4 separate regions of the Homo sapiens genome follow, and regions 2, 3 and 4 are each linked to region 1. The links come from fine-mapping of genetic effects on gene expression. A gene starts in region 1. Each other region holds a variant in brackets. All regions are shown on one strand. Distances are from middle to middle. Region 1 holds the start of E2F3 (E2F transcription factor 3). Region 2 has its middle 36 kb from the start of E2F3. Region 3 overlaps E2F3 (E2F transcription factor 3). Region 4 has its middle 130 kb from the start of LINC00581.

Evidence for each region. PIP is the estimated chance that this variant, and not a neighbour inherited with it, causes the effect.
Region 2: its variant is fine-mapped to the expression of E2F3 in whole blood (TOPMed, PIP above 0.99).
Region 3: its variant is fine-mapped to the expression of E2F3 in whole blood (TOPMed, PIP above 0.99).
Region 4: its variant is fine-mapped to the expression of E2F3 in lymphoblastoid cells (TwinsUK, PIP 0.95).

What each region holds. Positions count from the first base shown.
Region 1 is chr6:20,399,280-20,404,428 of GRCh38, forward strand. It overlaps E2F3 (E2F transcription factor 3), which reads left to right and starts at 2,600. Exons shown (of 7, transcript NM_001949.5): 1 at 2,600-3,346. The coding sequence starts at 2,954. LOC124901482 reads right to left here and starts at 3,493. Exons shown (of 3, transcript XM_047419652.1): 1 at 3,146-3,493; 2 at 2,990-3,101; 3 at 1,462-2,883. The coding sequence starts at 3,493. The coding sequence ends at 2,276. RefSeq lists silencers at 2,175-2,414, 3,265-3,734, 3,935-4,554 and an enhancer at 2,513-3,037.
Region 2 is chr6:20,363,182-20,368,330 of GRCh38, forward strand. No RefSeq gene overlaps it. Among named protein-coding and RNA genes, the nearest start is that of E2F3, 36 kb to the right of the region's middle. The variant G/A (reference allele first, on the strand shown) is at 3,168.
Region 3 is chr6:20,422,885-20,428,033 of GRCh38, forward strand. All of the region lies in intron 1 of E2F3 (E2F transcription factor 3), which reads left to right. Among named protein-coding and RNA genes, the nearest start is that of E2F3-IT1, 12 kb to the right of the region's middle. RefSeq lists an enhancer at 4,925-4,994. The variant A/G (reference allele first, on the strand shown) is at 2,022.
Region 4 is chr6:21,376,168-21,381,316 of GRCh38, forward strand. No RefSeq gene overlaps it. Among named protein-coding and RNA genes, the nearest start is that of LINC00581, 130 kb to the right of the region's middle. The variant A/T (reference allele first, on the strand shown) is at 2,176.

The DNA of each region.
Region 1 (5,149 bases):
AAAGTGCTGGGATTACAGGCGTGAGCCACCACCCCTAGCTATATAGCTAGTAAATGGCAGAGCCAGAATTTAAACCCAGATCACTCTGACTCCAAAGCTCATTCTTTCTGCTAAAACATGCTACCTCTTCCACAAATTAATAGCCTACCTTGGATTTCAGCATCTTATCTTCCACTATCTTCTCTCTTTGAACTCTTCTCTCCACCTACTCATCCTAGAGTTCACTAGACATAAAGTGTCAAAACATCTGTTTCTCTACCAAATACCCTATATTAAAAAAACTTGGGTAAGGTAGAATGATAAATATCTGAAAGCTTTCTAAAGCAGAATTGCAGGTGTGGGTCTAGAGTGTGAACACTTGCTTTCTTGTGGCTGTGTCGTATTTATCTTATTGCAATCACTTGTGGGGAGCTCAAGCCAGGATTCTATGCACAGCCCCAGTCCCAGGCTGGTCTCTAATCATAAGGCGCAGGTCTATAATTACTGTGTATGTTGCACCACTCCTCCCTCACAACCCCCACTACTGCCACCAAATGCAAGCTGCCAGTGATGCTCTGCAGATGGTAATATCCAAGTAGTGACAGTACTAGTTTCTTCCACAGGTATATCCATAGAGGAAAGCAACATTGATGGAACAAGAGCAGGGAAGCTGCTGGTATATTACACTTCTAGCTCATGCCCTTTGAGTACCACTTAATCTGCCCTAAAGATAGTGTCACTTCTGGCCAGGCGCGGTGGCTCATGCCTGTAATCCCAGCACTTTGGGAGGCCAAGGGAGGCGGATCTCCTAGGGTCAGGAGTTCAAGACCAGCCTGGCCAACATGATGAAACCCTGTCTCTACTAAAAATACAAAAATTAGCTGGGCGTGGTGGCACGTACCTGTAGTCCCAGCTACTCAGGAAGCTGAGGCAGAAGAATTGCTTGAACCCAGGAGGCAGAGGTTGCAGTGAGCTGAGATCGTGCCATGGCACTCCAGCCTGGGCAACAACAGCAAGACTCTGTCTCAAAAAATAAAGATAGTGTCACCTCTACCAGTGTCGACAAATGTTTAGGGCTATGGATCCTCAACTAGCCTGAATGCAAGACTAAAATATTCCTGAGCCTGGTGCAAGGTTTAATGGAACTTTTAACTCATCTGTTTCAGAAAAGGTAACAAGGCTAAAATATTAAGGAGTCCTAGCCTGATCTGACACATCTTGTCAGGTGTTTCATAGCACTCTGAGTAAGAGTTTTGGGAAATTAATAATAGTAATAAAAATCTTGTGAAAGGGCTCAAGGTGTTGCAATCCTCATCACCTATGAGCACCAATTCTGCAGCTGTTTTGCACGTAACTATAAATTATGATCTAGTCTCTACATACATAACTTCCCCCACATTCCTGCAGGGGTCTCTTTTCCTGCTCAATCTCAGGAGCAAGCTTTAATTTTAAGACCCATGAATACTTGAACAAATTCAGGAGTCAGTTTGACACATCATTTTATATTTTTCTGATGACAATTTCTAGTTTACTTTTTAAAAAAAGACACTATTTTAAAAATACTTTGGGATAGGTTTGAGTCGTTGTGTTTGCTTCCAGTCAGAGAACTTCCTACAAAACTGAAGATATAAAGTGCTGATGCCTGGGCGTGCCTGCGTTCGTTGGGGGCACGACGTCATCGTGGGAAGCGTGTACTTTTTCGGATTACTGCTTGGCGGATTAGAAACCCGTAGATCAGTTCTAGGTTAGCCCTGATTAACTGCCCTGGGTGTTTCTGGGCCAGAGGGAATGTCTGCTGGATTCAAACCAATATCCGTTGTAAGACAAAAGAGTTAATTTGTACTTTACCCCTATCCAGGCTAATAATGAAGGTACCGGGAATGATCTGGAATGTTAACTGGTGCCCGCAATCGCGTCTGCTGAACCTTCTGCCCCCACGATTCTGTCTGCCCACATGCTTCTGTCTATCAGCCCCGGCCTCGGGATCAGCTCTCGCCGCGTCATTGGTTGGATTTCAGGAAGGGAGAAGCCCACGATTTAAAGGGCTCCTTTTGCACCTGCCAGACATCGTCCGCATGGTCCAACTTGCCTTTGGCACGTATCTGGAAAAATCTCCTGCGCTGTTCGTTTATTGCACTGACTGGTCAAAGGAAAGAGTGTTCCCTTAGTCACCTTGACAATTTCCAAAAGCGAAACTTGGGCTCTAGACTAGATCTACACTGAGTCTGCGGGGCGCGGAGTCCCTGCCCAGGTCAGTAGCGCCGGCCCGGCGGGCGGGCGGGGACAGGGGCGGAGCCTAGGCCAGGCGTGGTCTTCCGTGGGAGAGAAGGAAATTCTTTGCCCCACCCCCTAAAAACTGCTCTTCTGCCAGCCAATCAAGGAGGCCTATGCAAATAGGGTCCCTGTCGCCCCGGTAACCATGATGCACGGCAGCCAATGGAAACCAGCAAGTCGCGGCCCTGCTCCATGATTGGGACTGAAGTAAGGAGGTAGCGGCCCAATGGGCTGTGGGAACGGTCCTCGGCGGGTTGAGGGGCGGGGATATGCAAATATGGTTTGAAAAGCCGGCGGGAAATCCGAGTTTCGCGGGAGGACCTTGGCGCGTAAACCGTATCCCTTCATTCATTGTCAGCAGCAGCTTCCTGGAGCCATTTTTCAGCTGCCGGCCGCAGCACCCGGGCTGCCGCCGCCGCCTCGCAATCCGTTGCATCGGCCGCCCCCGACGCCTCCATCCCCGCTTGGGGCCCGATATCCGTGCGGCCGGGACCCTCCTCTCTCCAGAGCCCCGATTATTTTTGGCCCCCGGGGCCTGTGCGGTGCGGAAAAATAAAAAGAAAAGAGAGAGAGGGGGCTCGGAAGCGCCGGGCGGGGAGGAGAGAAGGAGGAGAGACTTGGAAACTCCGACTGCAAATAATAAAGAAATTGAAAACAATACATTAATATACCATAACACTAAAAAGAGCAGGAGCGAGAGATGAGAAAGGGAATCCAGCCCGCTCTGGAGCAGTACCTGGTGACCGCCGGGGGTGGGGAGGGGGCGGCTGTCGTCGCCGCCGCCGCTGCAGCCTCCATGGACAAAAGGGCACTGCTAGCCAGCCCCGGCTTCGCCGCCGCCGCCGCCGCTGCCGCCGCCCCGGGCGCGTACATCCAGATCCTCACCACGAACACTTCCACCACCTCCTGTTCCTCCTCCCTCCAAAGCGGCGCCGTAGCCGCCGGCCCCCTCCTCCCCAGTGCCCCCGGCGCGGAGCAGACCGCCGGCAGCCTCCTCTACACCACGCCGCACGGACCCTCCAGCAGAGCCGGGCTGCTGCAGCAGCCACCAGCGCTGGGACGCGGCGGCAGCGGCGGCGGCGGCGGCCCTCCGGTAATACCCTCCCTCCCCACCGTCCCCAGCCCCGGCGGGAGGTGGGCTCGCACCGCGCGGGGTCGTGGGCGCGCTGCGGGCCGCTCGGGGAGAGCACTGGGCCGAGCATCGTGGGCCTCGGGGGCTGCCCCTCCAACGAGGGTTCATTGTTAGACCTGAGTGCTCTTCCCGGCGCCAGGAGGGTCGGGGGGCTCGGCCAGGCGCGCGGGGCGGCGGGGATTGCCTTGGCGCGAACCACATCAAACACTCCAAAACTTTTCGCGGCCCCCCCTTCTTTTCCTGCACTTTTCCCTACCCCCACTCTCCCTTCCCCTCCAACTCGAAGCTTCCTCTTTCTCGGGCGTAGGAAGGGGTCACGCCCCGGATGGAGAAGGGGGTGGGGGAGGGAGTAGTGAACTGGGGTGTGGGGGGCTCTGAGGGGTTGAAACCGGGGGACTGTTGGGGTGCTAGCCCCCAGTCGGCCTTGGAGGCTCGTTGGCGGCCGGGGGTCCCTGCGGCGTGCTCGGAGCGCAGGGGATCGGCGGGGCTGCGCTTGACACATTTTAGGATCTGTAACTCCCGGCAACAAAGGGGCTGGGGGAGGTGGAGGGGAGTCGGGCGTGGGGGAGGTGGGGCTGGAAGCCGGGTGCGGACTGGGGCGTGGGCTGTCTGGGGTGAGGGGCTCGCGGGCTGGCGCTCTGGCCTGGGCGCATCCTGGCAGTGGCAGCGGCGGCGCCCGCGTGGCCCAAGCGCCCAGGCCTTCCTCGCCGGGCCCCGGGCCTGCCCTTGACCCGCCTCTCCCCTTGCCCCTTCCTTCCCCGCCCTGTCCCCCTCTCCGCCCCCCGGCGACGGAGGGCGGGGGCAGCTGGGTTCCCGTCCCGCCGCCTGGGTCTGTCCCTCTCTCCGGGACCCGCCGGTGACGTTTCGCACACGTGCGCGCAGGACGCGCCTGTGACTGGGGAGGAGGCGGCGGCGGGAGGGGGCGCTGGAGGGGGAGAGGGGGGCACCCACTTCCTCCTGCTCGCCGGCTCCCTGGCCTGGGACGGTCCCGGCGCCCTCGCACCCGCCCCCGGCACCGCCACCCTCCCTCTCCTCTCCCCACCCCCCCACCGGCGCCCGCCCTCGCCCTGCGCCGCCGGTCTGTTCGGCCCTCCGGGCCCCCTCTCCAGCCGGCCCCCCACCTCCCCCCGGAGCCAGGCTGGTTTCGGAAATGCCCTTACAGCAGCAGGTTAGTGACCGGGACGGCTCGGGGGCCGCCGACGCCGCGGGGGCACCGGATTCTGTTGGGGGCTGAAGCGGTGAGGGTAGGCGGTTGAGCGGGGTTTTGGAGTGGGAACGGGGGGTTGGGTGCTCGAGGGAAATGAGTAAGCAAGAAAAATCTAACTAAGTAAATGCCCCGGCCTCCGGTTCTAGGAACCTCGGGGCGGGAGTGTCTGCCCCAGGGGGTGGGTATGGTGTTTACGTGGATTTTTTTTCTAGGGGGCGGATGGATGGGCGATAGAAAACCGGAGGGGGCTTCTCGCCAATGGCCGAGTTGAGCTCTGTTTTCTGTCTTCCTTCCCTTGTGCTGGAGGGGGAGGGGGGTGGGTCAGAGGGTAGGGTGTCTGTAGGATTCCCAGGCCACCCGCCACCCCCTCCCTTTGTCCCTGTAATTTATAAAGCGCCTTTGAGAGATGATTTAGGTCAGTATGCGGCTTCTCTTTTTGTTGGTACTAGAAAGAAGTGTGGCCCGGAGGTCTCCCCTTTCTCCTTTTCTCTCCTTCATTCCCTTCCTCCATGCCTCCGGGTCTTCACCCTCGTGGTGAGGCTTGGCCTCCACGGGGC
Region 2 (5,149 bases), 36 kb before region 1:
CTATTGTGAAAATAATATCAATCAATAATAATATGTCACTTTGGCACCAGTTTATTTCAGATGTTGCCTACTGAATATATTGACTGGTGAAATGTTTGAGGTCCTTTTCAAAAAGTAGTAGATTATATAGATTATAAGAAAACGACATCTGCAGCTGCTATATGATGTGTCTAAGGCATTATCATCTGTTGAATTTGTTGACGGATCCTAAGAGAACTTAGCCTTGGGGAGGAGAACAATGGAATAGGTCATCAGAGGGCAACTGAGACAAGGACAAGTTGTGTATCCACTGGAAGTAAGGTATACAGCCGTCTGTCAGGTGGGGGCTGGGACGAAAACCATAGCAGCTTGTTGAGCGCTGTGGAAGCTACAGATTTTGGGCAAACAGGTTCCAGTGATGAACTTTTTTTTTTTTTTTTGAGATGGAGTTTCACTCTTGTTGCCCAGGCTGGAGTGCAATGGCGAGATCTTGGCTCACTGCAAACTCTGCCTCCCGGGTTCAAGCGATTCTCCTGCCTCAGCCACCCGAGTAGCTGAGATTACAGGTGCCCGCCACCACACCCAGCTAATGTTTGTACTTTTAGTAGCGATGGGGTTTCACCATGTTGGCCAAGCTGGTCTTGAACTCCTGACCTCAGGTGATCCACCCACCTCGGCCTCCCAAACTGCTGGGATGTGAGCCACCGTGCCCGGCCCCAGTGATGACCTTTGATGAAACTAGGCACAAATGCTTATTTAGAACCAACCTCATCAACCCACTGGTAAATACACACCAGGCATGAGAAGAGAAAAATGAGAGAGATGGTGGGACCCCAAGGATGACAGTTTGCAACTCTCGGAAAGGAAAAACATGAACATGTTCCTATGTGTTAAAAAAAATCGAACTCCATTTTAATGGCTTTGCAACATCTTAGAGATTTGCTGACATTTATTCATTTTCTTATTGTTAGTCATTAAGTTTATTTCTAATATTTCATTATTATAGATTATATTGAAATATATGCATAAAACTTTGTCTACATTTCAAATAATTTCATTGAGGTCAATCCCTAGAAGTGAAATCATCGGGTCAAAAGACACAAACATTGTAGCAGTTTTGAAACATGACCCTAAAATTCTTTGCCACTCCTCTCATGGAGAACCAGGGTCTATTTTCCCTCCCTTTGAATCTGGGTAGACTTATGACAACATCAACCAAGAGAGTACTCTGCCATTCAGTGTGATGGCTGGAGGACTCATGCTTGGAGCCCTGAGCCACCATGTGAAAAATCGGGCTACCCTAAGGCCACCATGCTGTGAGGAGCCAAGCCACTTGAAGGCCACATGAATCATTCCACATACCTAGTTTTTGTATCACACCAGTCCAGGTGCCAAACTTGTGAGTGAACAAACCTTCAGTGGGTTCTAGGTACAGCTTCTGAGTCACCCCAAGCCTTCAAGTCCCCAGCCAAGGTACTACACATTACAGAGACAAACCATCCCCACTGTAGGCTATCCAAATCTGATCCACAGAATCTGCGAACACAATAAAATGGTTGTTTAAAGCCAAGGTTTCCGGGTAATTTTTTACACAGCTGTAGTAACTGGAACAAACATTTTTAGGGTTCTTGATATATGCTGTCAAATTGTTGTCTAAGCAGCTCATAGCAATTTGGCCTCCCACCTAGGATATATGAGTGTTCCCATCTCACTGCTCTTGATCCACACTGACAGATTTTAGAGTTTATCTCTTTTTTTCTTTTTACAGTTTTATTATAGAAAATAAATATTCACAAAAATTAGACAATAATATATTGAACACCCATGTACCTATCACCCAGTTTCAATAATTCCTGCTTATTTCATCTCTTCTGCTTCTTGTCCTGATTTCTACTTCCTATCAGCAGAGCAGTTATATGTCTTTTCTTCTCCTCCCCTTCTTCCTCCTCCTTCTTCTTCTTCTTCCTTCTTCTTTGAGAGAGGGTCTCACTCTATTGCCCAGGCTGGAGTTCAGTAGCATGATCCTAACTCATTGCAACATTGAACTCCTGGGCTCAAGTGATCCTTCAGCCTCACCCTTCCAAAGCGCTGGGATTACATGCGCCACCATACCCAGCAAAGCTGCTGTATTTCTAGATCACTCTTTTTAAGTAAAAGCACATTTGCTTCTCCTAGTCGGTGAAGACCAGGATTTTCCAGAAATAGCCAGATTAGACACTAAACAAATAAACAGCAATGGAAGAAGAAAGGAAGATAATAGCTACTATGTATTAAATAGGTACAATGAGCTAGGCACTACTCTAAACATATCATACAAAATAACTCATTTAAGTTTCATAGGGACCCTAAGAGGTGGGTAAAATTAATTCTCATCATCCCGTTTTACATATAAGGACATAGAGGTACAGGAAACAGCAATTTGTTAAAATTTGCACAGCTAGCTAGTATGTGGTGAAAACAGAAACTGAACTCAAGCAGTCAGGCTCCAAAGTCTATACTGATAAACACTGTACTACATCATTTTTTCTCCAGGGACACCTGATTCTGTGGCTGGCTACAGCAAATTAGTTAGTGTGGCACATTGATCCGATTCCCTGATCTACCATTACTTCGGTTATTGAGGAGATATTTGAAGGCTGGAGGTATAATATGTTGCCATTTGATTGGGTGGCTGGAGAAGTATGGCTGTTTATGTGCAGAGCCTCGTAAAGAAAAAGCCAGCCCAGGAAAGAATTATAGCTTAATAAGGTCAGGGTTTTTATTTCATAAGGAGTTGGGTCTCATCCATATTAAAAGAAAAAAAAATGTAACCTTTGGATTAATATGGAGGAATGGTGTTGCTTCATAGCTAATTCCTAAGGAAGTAACAGAAAAAGTAAAAAAAAAAAAACTCCTCAAAATCCACCAGCAGCAATCAGACGAGGAAAGGAGCACATGCTAATACCATAAGCCTCCAAAAAGGTGGTACAGGAAGAAAATAAGATTCTGGAGCTAAGCAGGACAGCATCTTGGCAGGGCTACCAATCCCAACTCTTTCACTCATGGGCCATAGAATCCCAAGCATTCTCATCAGTATTCTAAATCTGCAAAGAGCCCATCGGTATGCTTTATCCTTATCTTTTCTGTCTTCTGACTGCAGTGAATGAAAATGGCTGCTGGGGAGAAATTGGGTGAAACAGTCAACTGGA[G/A]TAACATGAATGAGAAGACTCCAGGGCTGTACTCTTAATTGGAGAAGGGAGCCAAAGCCTGTGGAAATGGGTACACCAGAGGGATGAACTGAGATAGAAATAAGCCCGGAGCTCAGGTTTTCTAATGAAGAAACATAGAAACATAGTCTCTGCTGAGCTCCCCCTGCCATGCCCAGAGGGTGCAAAAAAACAGGAAACACCCAGCCGCAAATTATAGCACTTTGGGGAAAACAAACTGGTCTCAGATAAGGTGGGAAGGCAGTCACGAAGTCACCCACACTCCATCAGAGCAAACAGGGGGTTTGACAGAGCTGCCCGAACTTGAGCAAGATGAAAAGAATCAGCCCTGGCAAGGAGGCAGTGGTGCCTGCGGGGATGGGGGTGGAGTGGGGGTGGAAGAGACACAGCCTCACAGAAGACAAACACACACTACAGCCGGCCTGAGAATTCAACTCAAGGAAAAGAAGTGGGGCTGGGTGCAGTGGCTCACACCTGTAATCCCAGCACTTTGGGAGATCCAGGCAGGAGGATTGCTTTAGCCCAGGAGTTCGAGACCAGCCTGGGCAACATAGTGAGTGAGACCTCATCTCTACAAAAAAAATAAAAAAATTATCCTGGTGTGGTAGCTAAATTTTTTCCCCTGAGTAGACCCAGCCACTCGGCAGGCTGAGGTGGGAGGATCGCTTGAGCCCAGCAGGTTGAAACTGCAGTGAGCCATGATTACGCCATTGCACTCCAGCCTGGGTGACAGAGCGAGATCCTGTCACAAAAAAAAAAAAAAATGGCAAAGAAGGAATCACCCTTACCAGAGTCTCAAGCACAAGGCAGAGCAACCAGGTGATGAGGGCTTTCAGAAGAGGCCTACTACAGAGAGGGGACATTGAGGAGAAGAGGAGGGAGGGTAGGAGAATATCCACAGGAGGCTTCCTCTTATCCCTTTGTATGATTCAAGGGAGTGAGCGAGTCAGCTCCCATTTTAGGACCGTTCCATAAACCCTTCAGAAGACAGCTATTTGAGCACCACAACATGTAGGGCAGTAAGCTCTTTTCATGAATGAACTCATCTAATCCTCACAGCAACCTTTAGATAGATATGATTATTGCTCCATTTTAGAGATAAGGAAACTTGCCCATGAGCACACAACTCTGGTCCCAGCAGGCTCTGGGTCCAGAGGCCTATCCATTATACTTCCTTGGCTCTCCTTTACTCAAAGAGAGGTCTAATCTTGCTCCAGAGGTGGAGGACCCCATGGCTTTACCAGGTAGGCAGAAAAACTAACCACAGACTGCCCAGCCTGGGAGAAGTTATGAGTTCTTTGATCCTCCTCCCCACTCCTAACCCCCGAGAGTTGCTGGGGAGAAAGGAGGACAGTGGCTCCATCCGGTTACACTCTCACAAACAAACCATATTTTCTATCTAAATAACCAGCTGAAATTAATCTGCTCTCTATTAAGTGTTAAGATCTTTCTCTTAGGTAAATGAAAATCCCTTCACCAACAGGTTTAGCTTCCCAGGCTGTAGACTACACCCATGCATAAAACACCCACACAGGCACACAGGGCTTGCAGCAGTGTTTTACACAGACATAATTATGACTCACAAATAAGCATGGCTGGAGCTAAAGAGCTCAACTAGAAATTACATAAGCATGGATGACATCCATTTTCTACTTGAGGAGTACTAACATGAAGCATTGTGGATTGGAGATTAAATTAACAGAAGGCAGAGTAGGCCATTTATTTGATGAATTCCTGCAAGTGGGGATCTGTCTTATAATCATGGGTCCACTGTGGGGGTGTAATAGTTCACCAATTAACAATAAACCCAATGATAAACCCAAAGGTTGCTTGCAGGAAGGCCCCTGGCCTGCAAATCAACGACTCTAAAAGTTTTTCTTTCTACACTTCATATCTGGTGTTCTAGAGTTGTTTATCTTTCCATGATCTCATTCCCACCTGTTTGCTGAAGAGAAGTGAGCTGA
Region 3 (5,149 bases), 24 kb after region 1:
AAGTTTGAAATATTACGAGAATTACCAAAATTTGACAGAGATATGTAGTAAGCACTGTTGGAAAAATGGTGCTGATAGACTAGCTTGATGCAGGGTTGTCACAAACCTTCAGTTTGTAAAACACTGCAGTATCCGTGGAGCACAATGAAATGTGGTATCCCTGTATTGTTTTGCCCAAGCCTATTATGTTTCTTTTGATTTTTCTATGATGTATTTCTTTCTACATATGTTTATTTAGTTTTTATAATGTCATGTGTCACTTAACGATGGGGATATAGTCTGAGAAATGTGTCATTAGGAAATTTCATCATTTTGCAGACATCATAGAGAGTACTTACACAAACCTCATGGTATAGCCTACTATACCCCAAGGTTCTATGGTCTAGCCTCTTGCTCCTAGGCTACAAACCTGTACTGTATGTTACTGGGCTGAATACTGTAGGCAACTTAAACACAGTGGTATGTATCCAAACATAGCAACAGTATAGTAAAAATACAGTCTTATAATCTTATGGGACCACTGGAATATATACAGTCTGCTGTCGACTGAAAGCATCATTGTTTGGCAGATGACTACATGTGACATTACAGTGCTTTTTTTTTGAGACCAAGTCTTGCTCTTGTCGCCCAGGTTGGAGTGCAATGGCACGATCTCGGCTCACTGCAACCTCTGCCTCCTGGGTTCAACCGATTCTCCTGCCTCAGCCTCCCAAGTAACTGGGATTACAGGCGCCCACCACCACACCCAGCTAATTTTTGTATTTTTAGTAGAGACAGGGTTTTGCCATGTTGGCCAGGCTGGTCTCGAACTCCTCACGTCGTGATCTGCCTGCCTCGGCCTCCCAAAGTGCTGGGATTACAGGTGTGAGCCACCACACCCGGCCATTACAGTGCTTTTTTTGAGACAGAGTTTCGCTCTTGTTGCCCAGGCTGGAGTGCAATGGCCTGATCTTGGCTCACTGCAACCTCTGCCTCCCGAGTTCAACCGATTCTCCTGCCTCAGCCTCCCGAGTAGCTGGGATTACAGGTACCTGCCACCATGCCCGGCTAATTTTTTGTATTGTTAGTAGAGATGGGGTTTCACCATGTTGGTCAGGCTGGTCTCGAACTCCTGACCTCAGGTGATCCACCCACCTCGGCCTCCCAAAGTGCTGGGATTACAGGTGTGAGCCACTGCACACAGCCGAAATTACAGCTTTTACAGTTTGAGTTTGGTGGCTTGCTTTGGGAAGGCCTTTCCTAATCTGCAAACCATAACAATATTCTATATATTTTTTCTCCTGGCTTCATAATTTTATTATTTTGATCTTTAACCTCAGTGGAAGGGTGTGTGTGTGTGTGTGTGTGTGTGTGTGTGTGTGTGTGTTTTAAAGGTGTGACTTTATTTTTCCTAAACGAATAGCCAGTTAAACTAGTGCCATTTATTGGATGGTTCCGCTTTCCCCACGCATGCACTTGAAATGCCCTTTTCTCAGAGAGACACAGAGAGAGTGTGTGTATGTGTGTGTGTGTGTGTGTGTGTGTGTACATGCATACATGCATGTATGTGCTGTGTGCATGTGTGTCTGTGTTGTTCTGTCTCTGAACTTTCTACTCTGCTCCATTGATACCTTTATCCCTTTGTAAAGAAGCAGCACACTGTTTTGAATACAGTAGCTTTGTGATATGATTTGCTATAGATAAGGAAAATCTGCTTCCTGTTACATACTTTTTTTTTTCATTAAAATTACAGTTTTTATGTTCATGCTTACTTGCATTTTTACAAATTGAGCTTCTTCTCCCCCATCCACTGTGAGTTTAGGGTTATAAGAAAAAAAACTCTCTGCACTTATTAGATAGTCTACTGCACTGGGAATAGCAGTAAGCTGTTTACATTTTTTCTTTCATCTGATACAACAAACCTTGAGAGTTGGTGCCAATATCCTCATCTGTAGATGAGGAAAGTGAGGCTCAGTGATGAAGCAGTTTGTCCAAGGCTGCATTTCTGGACATTGGCAGAACCAGGGTTCCAGACCAAGTCC[A/G]GGAAATTTCGAAACCTCTCTTAACCATTATGCAACCCAGACACGTGGGGTTTTCTCACATGACGAGGGCAGGCCATTGTCTAGGGCGGGTTATCAGGTGTTTCTCCATGTCCTGCAGGGCGGTCAGTGGCTTTTACAGAGTAGAGTGTTTATTGCATGAAGGGAAGACCTAGCAAGATCTCTCTAAAGGATTTATCCATTGGGGCAGCAAGAGTTGAAAAATTTGGCTTTGCCAAGGGTATTTGTTCAGATTTAGGATACAAGTCAAGTTGGGACCACAGGCTAAAGTTTAAGTGAGTGGGGAGAGAAATTATTTACCCAGTGCTTTTTTTTAATGCCAGACACTGTAACCCTTCCTCGGCTCTTTTCTAGAGTTGGGTCTGTGGTTTGGAATACAAAGGTGAGGAATACACAGCCCTGGACATTCAGAATGGGGCAGTAGGCTGGGAGGAGCTGTGCGCACAACCCCAGGAACCTTCTACTTTTTTTTTTTTTTTTTTTGAGACAAAGTCTCGCTCTGTCACCCAGGCTGGAGTGCAGTGGCACGATCTTGGCTCACTGCAAACTCTGCCTCCTGGGTTCAACCGATTCTTCTGCCTCAGCCGCCTGAGTAGCCAGGACTACAGGCGTACGCCACAATGCCTGGCTAATTTTTGTATTTTTAGTAGAGACGGGGTTTCACCATGTCGGCCAGGCTGGTCTTGAACTCCTGACCCTAGGTGATCTGCCCGCCCGCCCCGCCTCGGCCTCCCAAAGTGCTGGGATTACAGGCGTGAGCCACTGCGCCCGGCCCCTTCTACCTTTTAGAAGAAAATGCAACAACGTGTCTTAGCTCTCTAGTGGAGGAACAGAGGTCTCAGGTGGATCCAGAAATGCTTTGCTATAGAGTGGCATTTAAACTGGGACATTCATGTGTCTAAATTACCTAACAGTTTGAGCCCTCCCTTCCCCCGAGGTGGTTGCTTCTTCATTTGAATTCTCTCAGGTGCCTTCTGTTGGTTCTTAGAGGTGAACATCAGAAAAGTAATTTTCTTTGGAGAAGTTTGAAGCAGCCTCCCAAACAGAAGTCCTGTTGAGCTCCCACTGGGAGTTTTGGAAAAGTAATCTCATTTATTAGGAATAGTGTATTGATTTTGTGTGTAAAATGGACTAAGAGGCCTGTGACAATGAGTCCATTTGAAATTGCAAATTTAAATATCTAATACAATAGTTGTGCGGAAATACTACACCAGAATATAAATGATTAGCTGCTTAGTGAATTTCTCATGTGCATGTAATTAATTGGCAGTGGTGGTGGGGATCAAGTTTGTTTTCATATCCTGAGTCCTTTAATTTACCTTTTCTTCAACAATTACTGGTGTAAGTATAGGGGAATTAAATCTTAGTGTCTTTTATAAAAATATATAGTTTTGCTTTGTCATTCATTTATTGTTTTTTGGTCTACATTATCCAATTTTGTATTACACAATAGAAGGCACCTAATCAAAGATTTCTTGTTTTTACTGCATGATTGCACTCTTAATTTTGTGAAAGCATAGGTTTACTTCCAGACTGAGAGGTAAATGAATAATTATTTTGTGATTTATTTAGCACTTGCCGCCCCAATCTTGTTTTTCACGTCTGCAGTTATGGCTGAAATATCTTATTCCATTCCCAGCCTCTCTGTTGGTGGTATCTGCCTGATCTCCACCTAGTGTCATTGTGGGATCGTGGCCACACATGGGCCTTCCAGGGCTGTGCTGTTGGTGACCAGTGGTGCTTGTAACCCTGAAGTGTTGGCATGGCCTCAGCTGACTGGGCTTTCCCTCATGCCCAGGGCTTAAACTTGAACTCTGCCTGCTCTGTTAGCAGTTTTTCTCTACATTTCTTTTAAAATAGACTTTCACTTCTTCCTTCCCATCCCCCCCAATACAACTGCCCTGGCATCCTGGCTTTTTCCATTCTTGACAAATGATCTGTCCACTGTAACTGTAGCTCCACTGTGCTGATATCTGTTGAAATTAGACCTAGAATCTAAATGTGGCTCCATGAAACTATGGGTGAGACATTTTTTTTCTTCAAATAGTCTATGGTTTATTGGCACCCCAAACCACCTATCCATACCTTCTCCACTGTGATGCTGGGGGAAGAAAATGGGGTAATATATGTGTAAAAGTGACTGAGAATGAAAAGTTCTGCATAAGGTACAATGTTAGCTGGGGTTTTTGCATATATAATAAGAAGACAAATGTTCACTACCACTCCTGCCTGCCTTCCCTGGGCATATCGAACTGATTCCAGCCTAATAGCATTTCTTATCATATAATGGGAATCACAAACCCTCCCTATGTCCACTCCTACAGCGCCTTCTTACCCTAATGAGGCTTTGTAACTCAAAGATTTAAACATCTCATTTATGCTCCATTGACTGAGTTAACCAAACACTTTGTATTTGGCCCTTTCCTCTTAGAAGTTCAGAACAATAATATGGTCCTGAAACTACTCCTGCAAAATCTGCTTAGGGAAGAAGGGTCGGCCAGGGCAGGGGTTACATTGGGGTTTGCAGTGTAGTCAGGCACCAGGGACCTGGCAGGTTGGGTGGGATCAATTCTTTTCACCTCAGGGCTCCAGTTTCTCATTTGTCAAATAAAAGTGATTTCTAAGGCCCCCTTCTGCTCAGACCTTCTGTGACTGTCCACTAAGCCACAGAGACTCACTGTGGCCATTGAATTCTTGGGGACCTCAGGGAGGTTTTGCTGCCGAAGTGACTGCCCATTCTGCCGGCATACATTTGGACTACCATTTGAGGTGACTTGGAGAGAATGTCACTGTGGAAGTTGGCCTTCCTGACACCTGCCACACACCTTCCATGCCATGCATCTCCTCTTTTCGAAGTCCTAGGAGCTCCTTGATGATATTTACTATTTACATTTGCATCTCTGATAGTGCTCTTTCCAAGTGAGTTGGCAGCAGTTCATTTAAATTCTGAAGCAGATCTCTGAGTTAGGGTTTGGTTCTTCTGGCCTTTGAGATGGGTGCTGCCCAGCACAGCAGGCCTCGGTGAACACCGCTGTTCACCAAGGGACTTTGGTCCCTCTCCTGCAACGATTCAGTGAACTGCCTTGAAGCTCTCGCAGGGACTCTGAAGT
Region 4 (5,149 bases), 980 kb after region 1:
AGGGGAGCTCAAGGCACATTGGAGGCATGATTGGAGCCCACAGCAGGAGGGCCGCGGGCCCTGGGACAGGAAGCTTCTCTGCTTCTCTCTGGTATCTACGTGGGTCACGGGCTGATACGTGTAAGAGTCCCTAGTTATGTAGTAAGTCCTCAAGTCAAGCAAAATGAGATGTCCCCTGATACATTTACTCCCAACACTTAATCCCAATGATTTCTATGATACATAGACTATATTTGTGCCAATAAGCCTACAGTAACTTAGTTTGCAGGTAAAAATCCCCATTTGTGTACACATAACTTATTTTAGAGCACACATTTGATTATACATTTGAAATCAGAATTAGGGGCCAATTATGAGAAATGGAAAAAATAAGCTTTTTTATTTTTTCAGACAGGGTCTCACTGTGTCACCCAGGCTGGAGTGTAGTGCTGCGATCATAGCTCACTGCAGTCTTGACCTCCTGGGCTCAAGCAATCCTCCTATGTAGCTACGACTACAGGTACACACCACCATACCTGGATAATTTTGAAAATTTTTTGTAGAGATGGGGGTCTTGCTGTGTTGCCAGGCTGGTCTTGAACTCCCGGCCTCAAGCAATCCTCCTGCCTTGGCCTCCTAAAGTGCTGGGATCATAGGCATGAGCCACCATGCCTGGCTTACTTTTCTTTCTTGATAAAGGTTATCGTGCCTTGGAATTCACTTTGTTGGTTTAAGAAGTAAACAATATGATAGGTGAAAAGAGCTAACTTGTTCTGTAAACAGTAGGCATTGTCTTGGGTGTTGGGAGAAATGGGAATTAAAAGGTGGTAACTTAGAAGATTTAAGAGATCTTCCAAATCTAAATCATTAGTTTCAAAGATGGAGATGTGATTTCCAGTGTGGTCAAGGGATTTGCTCAGGTAGAGCAGCCTGTGGAACCCAAGCCTTCAACTGTGGTCCATTGTTTTACTACTGTTTATATTCCAGGCCATATCGGGCACAGAGTAAATTGTGTCTACACACCAGGACTTCTGCTGCCAAAGCCACAGACTCAGAAATGGTAGATGGGGAGATGCAGGAGAGGTCATCAAGGCCTCCGGTCATACTTTTACAGACAAGCAAAGTGGTTTGGAGAAGGGAAGGAAGGGAAAGAAACTACCATCAGGTAGAGCAACTAAGGACAGAACTAGTGTCAACAGGAAGTTGCAACAAAGTACTGTAGGAAGAAACCACATTCGGGAATTGCATGACATTTTAGGAAGAAATAGCATCACTTGGAAGGACCCTGAAGAAAGAAAGGGATAAAAAAGTCAGATGGGGAAGCAAGGGAAGGGACAAGAGCTCAGAATGCCATAGACATGCTTGAGATGTTTGTGGCCTGGTTCGTTGTCATAGATAAAGCTGAAAGATTGCCTGGAGCCAGGGCACGGGGCTGTTGTATGTCAGGCTCAAGGTGTGTCACAGTGTGTCACTGATGTGATTGGACGGGTGAGTGCTATGATCAAGCCCATGTTTTAGGAGGATTCATCTAGAAGCAACAGATAGGATGGATACACGCAGGGTAAGAATGGAGTTTGATTCTTGCCGTAGTAAAGGGAAGTGTTAATGAGGATGTGAACTGGGGCAGTGGCAATTATGACCTTTGGGATACACAAGCTGGAAGTGAAGCTGGGTCTGGTCAGGGGACAGGATGAGTTTGGTTTTGAAACTAGTGCATTTGAGATGCTGACGGGCCGTCCCCATGGGAATGTCCAGCTGGCAGCAGAGAAAATGAGCCGGATGGTAGGAGCAGTGGATTCGAGAACAGATCCTAAGGAGCTCCTGTGTTTAAGGCCAGGGGAAGGAGAGGGATGAGGGAAGGAGACAGAAAAGGACGCATCCCATGTGTGAGGGACCACTGAAATACAGCATCACAGAAGCCAAGGAATCAAAGAATTTCAAGGAGGAGGAGGAGCAGTAGCAGTGTCACCTGCTGCAGCAAGGCCAGGGCTCATGATCCCTGGGGCTGGGGACATCGCTGGTGTCAGCCATACAGGCAGCGTGTGCAGAACAACTCAGAACCTAGGCATTGAAGCAAAGGAGAAATTTAAGCTTAGGCCAAGGGAGTAGTATAGCTGAGGGAAGGATTTTGAATATATATATATATATATGTATATGTATATGTATACACACACACACACACACACATATATATAT[A/T]TTTTTTCTTTTTCTTTTTTTTTATATGGAAACTAGCTCTGTCACCCAGGCTGGAGTGCAGTGGTGCAATCTTGGCCCACTGGAACATCTACCTCCCAGGCTCAAGCAATTTTCCTGCCTCAGCCTCCCGAGTGGCTGAGATTACAGGCATGCACCATCATGCCCACTTTGGTTTTTTGTATTTTTTGTAGAGATGGGGTTTCACCATGTTAGCCAGGCTGGTCTTGAACTCCTGGCCTCAAGCGATCCACCTGCCTCGGCCTCTCAAAGTGCTGGGATTACAGGCGTGAGCCACCACACCTGGCCCTTTAAAAATACGTTCATTCATTTATTCATAGACATTAGCGATGGAAAGACATAGGCCTGTCTGTCAGTGAGGGATAAGGAGAGAGTGCAGAGACTGAAGATGTGAGCCGGCTGGGTCCGTGGAAATGGTTCAAGGACGGTTGGAGAAGGTGGAATGAACAAAAAGCCTTGGCTCAGGAGAGGCCCACTTTTCCTTCAGAGACAAGATGGAAGCTGCTGGTAAAGCTACAGAGGAAGTTAGAAGAAAAAAGATGTTGTTGGCCAGGTGCGGTAATCCCAGCCTGTAATCCCAGCACTCTGGGAGGCCGAGGTGCGCAGATCACCTGAGTCCAGGAGTTCGAGACCAGCCTGGGTGACATGGCAAAACCCAGTTATACAAAAATTAGCCAGGCGCTGTGGTGTGCGTCTGTGAGTCCCAGCTACTGGGGAGATTGAGGGTGAGTCTGGAGGCAGAGGCTGCAGTGAGCCAAGATTGTGCCACTGCACTCAAGCCTGGGTGACAGAGCGAGACCCTGTCTCAATAAAAATAAAAAAGAAAAAGGATGTTGTTTCGTGGGTGCAGAATTTCAGTTTGAAATGATGAAAAAGTGGCCGGGCACAGTGACTCATGCCTGTAATCCCAGCACTTTGGGAAGCCGAGGCGGGTGGGTCACCTGAGGTCAGGAGTTCGAGACCGGCCTGGCTAGCGTGGTGAAACCTCATCTCTACTAAAAATACAAAAATTAGCCAAGTGTGGTGGCGGGCGCCTGTAGTCCCAGCTACTCGGGAGGCTGAGGCAGGAGAATTGCTTGAACCCAGGAGGTGGAGGTTGCAGTAAGCTGAGATCGGGCCATTGCACTGCAGCCTGGGTGACTAGAGTGAAACTCTGTCTCAAAAAAAAAAAAGAAGACGAAAAGTTCTGGAAATGGACAGTGGTAGTGGTTATGCACAATGTAAATGTCCTCAAGAACACTGAAATGTACACTTAAAGTGGTTCAAATGGCAAATGGCAAATGTTATGATATGCATATTTTAACATGAGAAGAGAGAGAGAGGATGACCTTAATTTTTCAGTCAAGTAGAGGGTGAGGGTGAGGGCTGAGAGGTGGGCCCTTTGTGCATGAAGATTCAGCAAGAAGAGCTTTTGAGCACCCGTATCAGGGAATCCATAGCAAGCCCAGGAGAACTGGGGGCCAGAATGGGCCAGTCGAGGGGTGGAGATAAGTGAGCCTCCTTTCTTGGTAAATCCTAATCCTATCATGACCCTTCTTTGCTTAAATCTCATCAATGGCTTCTCATTTTTCTGAGGATAAAATTCTAGCTTCTCACCAATACCTCTCAGGCCAGGCATAAGCAGAGCCCTGCTCTGCCCTCCCACCCTGTCCCACACCACAGTTCCCCAAAAGTCCTTGCTTCAGCCACATGGGCCTTTGTGGGCCTTCAAATGTGTCAGGTGCATTCCCTCCCCAGGGCTTTTGCAGATGCTGCTCCCTCTCATCCTTCAGGCTTCAGCGTGAACGCCTCTCCTGAGCAGCGCCTCCTCAGGCCACTGCTGTTGGAATGGCCTCCCTCTTCCCATCTTCCTTCATCCCAGCACGTCCTTCATAGCCCTGGTCACATTGTGCAATGGTATCTGTGTGTCGTCTGTGGCTGTCCCTCTACTAGTCTGTAAATGTGACGGATGTAGGGACCTCTGGGTCTGTCCTGACTCTATATCTCCAGTGCCCAATAAAGCTTTAGGAAACTTGGTAAATATTGGTTAAATGAATGAATGAATGAATGGACCAATCATCTTGACTTTTCACAACAATGTCCAGCAGCCCAGGCATAAGAGAAAAGAAAGCAGACGGTGGTGATAACACCGGACCAGGACTGAGAGTGGGGAGGGTAAGGAATTACCGCTGTGAGGAAGAACCCTGCTGATGAATGATCCATTCTGAAGCCCAGGTTGGAAAGGGCAGTAATTGCAGCCAGGAAGAGGTAGATGGGCTGGATGAGAGAGGTCGTCTCAACAAGTGAAGGAATAGACATTCGTCATGCCCAGGTTTGTAATGAAGTGTTCAGTATGTGAGAATGTGTATGAGAAGTTGTGGGGGGAACTCTGGATTCAAATGAAATGGATTTATGAACCCACTAGGACCTTGAATAGACTGACTGAGACGAAAGTACCCAATCAAGAGATGCAAATATGCATGTTTATTTCATATTTATGCTCTTCATAGCAAATTGAGGGTTGTCAGGCCAAGGAGCCCATTAGACTCCTGCTCCAATTTACTCTGGGCCCAATATGGCCTGGAACATAAACAGTAGTAAAGGCAACTATTGAGCACTTGCTCTGAATCAGTGCTTGCACTTCACACATTAGCTCATTTAATCCTCACAATAGCCCTCTAGGGTAAGTAATTTTCTGAAGATCAGAAAGCCAGCAAAGTGGTGGAGCCCCCATTAAACCCAGGCCTCTCTGCCTGCAGTTACTGGACTTTTCCCATTCAGCCAGATTGTTACCAAGCATATGAGCCTTCACATTCATAGTCGCTGCTATTAAGGAGATTACAATCCTAATGCATTTGCAGAGGGGATTGAAATTGAAGGTAAACTCTTACAAGGTTTACAGAACACATATCTTCTATGTGCTCATATGAGACAAATAGTTCACCCAGCACGCAACGTTTATTACCAAATTACTTGA